Homo sapiens: one gene and its partner. The protein of the gene in region 2 purifies or fractionates together with the protein of the main gene of each other region. This does not show direct contact. Each region holds a gene or a part of one and is shown on either strand. Other genes may lie near its edges.

The links. The genes of interacting proteins can lie anywhere in the genome.
Region 1: the proteins of SCIN (region 2) and CORO2B purify together in Homo sapiens (co-immunoprecipitation; one large-scale study listed by IntAct). This does not show direct contact.

Annotation. Positions count from the first base shown.
Region 1 is NC_000015.10:68,721,939-68,725,252, forward strand, and holds part of CORO2B (coronin-2B), read left to right. Parts: intron 1-3,314. UniProt on the Homo sapiens protein: May play a role in the reorganization of neuronal actin structure.
Region 2 is NC_000007.14:12,569,206-12,572,962, forward strand, and holds the start of SCIN (scinderin), read left to right. Parts: upstream 1-1,514; 5' UTR 1,515-1,581; coding exon 1,582-1,780; exon of another isoform or gene 1,781-2,176; intron 2,177-3,757. UniProt on the Homo sapiens protein: Ca(2+)-dependent actin filament-severing protein that has a regulatory function in exocytosis by affecting the organization of the microfilament network underneath the plasma membrane.

The DNA of each region.
Region 1 (3,314 bases), on a different chromosome or scaffold from region 2:
GACAGGGTCTTACTATATTGCACAGGCTGGTCTTAAACTCCTGGGCTCAAACAGTCCTCCCACTTTCGCCTCCCAATGTGCTGGGATTACAGTCATGAGACACTGCGCCCAGCTATTTTCTTGTTTTTAAAAGAACTCTACTCTTTGAAGATAGAGACACAGGGGTCATTGTGATAGCCCAGGAGGGCAATAACAAGGGCCTGAGCTCAGTTCTGGCACTGGGTCTGGAGAAGGCAGGGTTGAATAGTAGTTAAATCAAGCAATATTTCGCTGTAGACTTGCCTATGGAATCAGAATTGAGAACCTGGAGGAAAAGCTTAAAGGGTCTCAGAGCAGACAAAACAGATGCCACAATCTACACCAAAGTTGTGCATCTTCCTCGCTGGGAAGAAGCTTTCTCAAAGCCTGCTGACTCTGCCTTTATCCACAGTTTTAATCATCGTAGCAGTTCGGAAGCAGCCAGTTAGAAAGTGGGGCTGTCAAAGGTGGACGCATTGATCTAAGTGTGAGGAAACAACTGACAGCTTGATGCGAGGGAAAAGTCCTACGATTGTACAACTCAGGAACTTTACTAAAAATCGCTGAATTGTAAGCTTAAAATGAGTGACTTTTATGGTGTGTGAATTACACCTCACTAAAGCGGTTTTTTTGACAAAAGTGGACCAAAAAACAATGCAAAGAAATTTTGAGAACTTGGAAGACGCAAGAGTGTGTAGAGTCATTTAGTGCAAAGGCAAATAGCACGTCATCCCTCTCAACAGATGTAACTGGGACTGGTGGTTTGTTAGTTAACAAAAAATATTTTTTTAAGTTATATTTTTTTAAGTTAGTTAAAGGAGGCAATCATGGCTGGGCACGGTGGCTCACGCCTATAATCCCAGCACTTTGGGAGGCTGAGGCGGGAGGATTGCCTGAGGTTAAGAGTTCAAGACCAGCCTGACCAACATGGTGAAACCCTGTCTCTACTAAAAATACAAAATTAGCCAGGTGTGGTGGCGCACGCCTGTAATCCCAGCTACTCGGGAGGCTGAGGCAGGAGAATCACTTGAACCCAGGAGGCAGAGGTTGCAGTGAGCGGATATTGCACCATTGCACTCCAGCCTGGGCAACAAGAGTGAAACTCCGTCTCAAAAAAACAAAAACAAAAGGAGAGAATCATAAAAATGATACATACATTCTTTTTTTTTTTTTTTTTTTTTTTTAGACAGAGTCTTGCTCTGTCACCCAGGCTGGGGTACAATGGCACAATCTTGACTCACTGCAACCTCCACCTCCCGGGTTCAAGCAATTCTCCTGCCTTAGCCTCCCAAGTAGCTGGGACTACAGGTACCCACCACCATGCCTGGTTAATTTTTGCATTTTTAGTAGAGACAGGGTTTCACCATGTTGGCCAGGCTGGTCTTGAACTCCTGACCTCAGGTGATCCACCTGCCTCAGCCTCCCAAAGTGTTGGGCTTACAGGTGTGAGCCACGGCGCCCAGCCAATAGATACATTTGGTTTCTTTGTTGTTGTTGTTTTGTTTTGTTTTGTTTTGAGATGGAGTCTCACTTTGTCTCCCAGGCTGGAGTGCAGTGGCATGATCTCGGCTCACTGCAACCTCCACCTCCCGGGTTCAAGCAATTCTTTGCTTCAGCCTCCCGAGTAGCTGGGATTACAGGCACCTGCCACCACACCTGGCTAATTTTTATATTTTTAGTAGAGATGGGGTTTCACCATCTTGGCCAGACTGATCTTGAACTCCTGACCTCGTGATCCACCCACCTTGGCCTCCTAAAGTACTGGATTACAGGCGTGAGCCACCGTGCCCGGCCGATACCTTCTTTAAACCATTTATTTTTGTTTTAAACATAAAACATGCGAGGTGTAGTGGCACCCCTCTAGTCCCAGCTACTCAGGAGGCTCAGGTGGGAAGATCGCTTGAGCCCAGGAGTTTGAGTCCAGCCTGGGCAACATGGCAAGACTCTATCCCTAAAAAATAAAAGTAGGCCGGGGTGGTGGCTCACACCTGCAATCCCAGCACCTTGGGAGGCTGAGGGTGGATCACTTGAGGCCAGGAGTTCAAGACCAGCCTGGCCAACATGGTGAAACCCCGTCTCTACTAAAAATACAAAAATTAGCCGGGCGTGATGGCACACACCTGTAATCCCAGCTACTCCAGAGGCTGAAGCAGAAGAATACCTTGAACCCGGGAAGCGGAGGTTGCAGTGAGCCAAGATCGCGCCACTGCACTCCAGTCTGGGTGACAGAGCAAGACTCTGTCTCAAAAACAAACAAATAAATAAATAATAAAAATAAAACATATACATTCATTTAGCATATTTTGATGCAGGACCAGGACCTTTTCTTCAAGGAGGCCCTCCCTGGTTGGAATCTGCCATGTCTTTCACACAAATCACACCTTAACTCCCATTTCCAGTTTCCATTTCTTTTAGGTAGAAAAATAATTTAAAGTTCATCTGAAAGCAAAGTCCTAGTTTTTACAATGTTTTCTCTCATCTTTTTTTGAGACATTGAGGTATAATTTGCCTATGGTAAAATTCATCCTCTGTAGTGTGTCGGTTTAAGAGTTTTGACAAACACACACAGTCATGCAGCCACCATCAGCCAAGATATAGAATATTCTCCAGTCTTTTAGGGCTAGATCTTCCACACCCAATTCGGCCACAGTTTTTTTAGCATCATCTTTATCAAGATTTTCTAAAGCATTTAATTAAGTTTTTATAGAAACAACAACTCTCTTTTTGTGCTCATTTCATCAATTTATATTATATTTCATTAAATTATGCAATTACAATAACAAATGTAATTCACACCAGAAAGTTTGAGACCAAACACAATTGACTGTGGGTAACATTCAACTCAGGTGTGCAGGAGCCTCAAGGAGCCTGCTGCCTTCCAGGGCTCGGCGTTTTGTGGACATCTGTCAATATGCTTTACAGGAGAAATGGAGGCGGGTTAAGCTAGAGAGTCATTGGGGTGAAGATCTGCCAGGATAGCTGTACATGAATCCCTGACCAGTGCAAACTTTGGTATTCTTGTCATAGTTCCTCATCAGTAGGGAAAAAGCTAGATTCCATTCTGTATCCTGAGCCTCCTTAAGAAGAGAAGGATACAAAGCATTTTAGAAAGTTCTAAATTATCAGCACAAGCCGGGCATGGTAGCTTACACCTGTAATCCCAGCACTTTGGGAGGCTGAGGTGGGTGGATCTCTTGAGGTCAGGAGTTCGAGACCAGCCTGGCCAACATGGTGAAACCCAGTCTCTACTAAAAATACAAAAATTATCCAGGCATGGTGGCACATGCCTGTAATCC
Region 2 (3,757 bases):
ACACACACACACACACACACACACGGGGGGGGATTCGAAAAGGTTATATGTTACATTTTCTGTTAAAAATTTAAAATAACTACATTACCTATATTCTTGTTGACAAAATTTGAGTGCCTGGAAAAATACATAAGAAACTGGTAACGTAATTGCCTTTGGGGAAAGCAACTGGGTGGCAGGGTGAAATGGAGATAATTTTTTATTGCACACATTTTGTACTTTTAATTTTTTTACCATGGTCATGTAATAACCTATTAAAAACATAATTTAATTAAGGAAAAAAATCTAATTTTGCATTATTATTGACCTTCCAGGGATTCATGTAATTTGAGAAATTGAATGAAAACAATTTTACATGCATGAAATTCAGCTTTCTTACTCTATACATCCTGAGTGATTTGCCTTTTTCAGTAACAGAATCCTTTGCTATACCAGCTTGTTAAATGAATGCCAAATCAAGAGTAAAATTTCCATCTGTATTCCATAGTGTTTTAGCCATGCTGCAAAAGCAAAACCTGTAGGTAAAACAAAGAAAATTATCACCTTGAAGCTAGGTAACAGGTAACCCAGAAGTCCGGCCAAGCATAAAATTACAGCCACAAACAGCCCTGCAGAGAACATCTCAGGACGGCGGCTGCTGGGTTTTTGTTGTTGTTTTCATCTTTCTTGGCCAAAGGAAGCAGGTGTTAAGAGAGCTCAACCACAGCTCCTGAACTCTGAGATTTACAGAGCTCTGTCACCTGGGGTAATACTGCCATTCTTCCAGGTTTTCTTCCTGTCCAAGAAATCTGACATGCTGTTTTTCATGGTATTTTCAAACTGGAAGATCGAGACAGAAACTTTGGTCGTCAGGAATGCAGAGATTGCCCAATGAAATGACAGAATTGATCATTAGGATGCTTGTTACTCAAAAAGCCCATTTTTTAAAGAAGGATGTATTAAAATTATTCCAGCATGCTAATGTGGCACACTCCTCTGCTGCCTAACGGCAGGTGTTGCTATTAGCAGAGGAAGCCTTGTTCTAAGAATTATTCTAGAGGGCCAGAAAGAACAGGTATTGCTCCACCCGAGTAAACGCTGACTCAACTCTGCAGGGCTGGCGCGCTCTTTCCTCACCTCACCCCTCCTGCCAGGCACAACTGAGATCCAGAAATAAGAGGATTAGCGAGAGAAGGGGAAATATGCAGGACGGTAGTGATGGGTATGCACAAAGGAGTGCCAAGCAGTTTTAACCGTTAATGTTCTTCGTCTATTGCTAGAGAAAATGTCTTTCCTTGGAGGAGGCATTGGCACGAGTTACTATAAACTCCCTCTGAATCTCAAGACTTCTGGGACGCCGATTCCGCTCCTGGCCTGGGGCAAGGCGTGGGAGCTTGGAAGCCAGCGCTGCGCTCCCCGTGGGAAGCGATCGTCTCCTCTGTCAACTCGCGCCTGGGCACTTAGCCCCTCCCGTTTCAGGGCGCCGCCTCCCCGGATGGCAAACACTATAAAGTGGCGGCGAATAAGGTTCCTCCTGCTGCTCTCGGTTTAGTCCAAGATCAGCGATATCACGCGTCCCCCGGAGCATCGCGTGCAGGAGCCATGGCGCGGGAGCTATACCACGAAGAGTTCGCCCGGGCGGGCAAGCAGGCGGGGCTGCAGGTCTGGAGGATTGAGAAGCTGGAGCTGGTGCCCGTGCCCCAGAGCGCTCACGGCGACTTCTACGTCGGGGATGCCTACCTGGTGCTGCACACGGCCAAGACGAGCCGAGGCTTCACCTACCACCTGCACTTCTGGCTCGGTAAGGGACGGCGGGCGGCGGGACCCCGACGCACCAAGGCCGGCGAGGGGAGGGCGTAGGGGTCTGAGATTTGCAGGCGTGGGAGTAAAGGGGACCGCAAACTGAGCTAGCCACTCGCGCCCCCACGGGGCTGCCCTTTGGGGCCGGCCACTTTCTCCCTACCGAAGTCAACTCGCCGGCTGCAAACGCGGGGCTCAGGCGTTGTCCGCAATTGACTTACCTCGCAGGCTTTGACCTTTGCCAGGTGTAGTTCCTGGACTTTGGAGCTGGTGACTGGCTTCTTCCCCTTTCACCGTCAAGTATCCAAACGCCACTCTTGTCCAGGGCCGCTGCCTCAGCGCACACCGTCTCTGGCCAAGCCCCGCTCACCTTCCGACAAACTCAGTCCTGCTTTCCCTGTCGGGATGGAGAGGAAGTCATAAAGTCTGGGGGCATCTGCCGCCGCTAGGAAGAAGTCCTTTTCTTTTTCTTCACACATTATTTTTATTTGTTGCTTTCGGGCACTGGCTTATTTTCTCTATGATTGCGGGAATTATTGTTCTGGGCTTCTTTAAAACAGGATTCTACCCGCACCATGCTGCTTGTGGGTCTGGTAGACAAAAACTCCGCTTCATTCGGAAGCTGGCGTCCTCAGATAGAAGTAAGAAAAAAATACAGATATTTTATATACAAATAAATAGCTCTATATGGGTATTTCATATATTTATGTAGACTGCTTTATTGTTATTATTTATTATTTATTTTAGCAAGGACACAAGATGGAACAGAAACGGCTCCTTCAGCAGTAGTAATTATTTTGAGCTGCGTTCGTGCCAGGCTGTCAGGACACTGGGCCTTGTGTGTTCTTTTTCCACCTTCTACTTTTACTCATAAACATCCTGAATGTCCAGCCTCTCCCCAGGAGGTCTTGTGCCAGTGGGCACACCCTGTCTAACAACATGCCGATTCTCTGAGCCTTTTTGCCTTCTTTTAAAACTAGCTAGCCTGCCCAGTACTCGTGTTTGTTTAGTTTTATCCCTGAGCTTAGGAGGAAAACACACAAAACCACACACACTTACACATTTTTGAGTCCCTGAAAGCCAACACTGTAATTTCCAACATTTGAAGATTTTAAGAAACAAAATAATAGAAAACATTGAGTAGTGACTGTCTAAACATTGGCAAACACCTGGAACAGGCATTTGAGAAATGAGAAATGAAAAATACGTAGATGAAGATAAGACTTTTAATTATAACATTTGGAGTCAAAAATTTGTGTTAGCTTGAGGAGGCAGAGAAGGCTCAGCCTGAGTTCTGAACACATTTTGGCTTCTTGATGCATTGCTGTTATTCCTATTATAATGTTGTAATACACAGTCATCTATTTGTATTTTCTGCCAGAAAAGACTGAAACTTTTATAACCCATGTTCAAGAATGAATGATGCCAGATAGAATAATGATGTCCTTACAGAGGACTTTCCATGCAGAACTTAAATCTAGCATGAATGAAAGTGTTTGAAATGCCACATTTGCCATTTGAGTAAATTAAAATGTGAAATAATGCCATATCTTACTGTAGACAGCAGTTAAGTTTGACTTTGTCAGATGACCGCAAGGGAGATTTGAACACAATTCTTTAATTCTATACATTTTTATCCAAGTTGTCCTCTTAACTACTATATTTTGTAGGGTTTACAGATTCACCTTATTCACTTAATTATCTACTTAATTATCCACTTGATGCCCATAAATTTCAAAAATATAATAGAAAATGGTTTGGGCAGAAACATTTATAATCTTAAAGACATGCTAAAACTGAAGTCAATAACATGTTAATAACAAGCAAATTCATTCAGTAATTATTCAATATGGCCAGTACTGTACAAGGCACTTGTGGATATGAATAATTAATGAAACTTCTCTAAAAGTTCATCACCTCAAAGGTGCAAAAAGACAAAAAGTGATATAACACAGGTAGAATGTGATAATTACTGTGA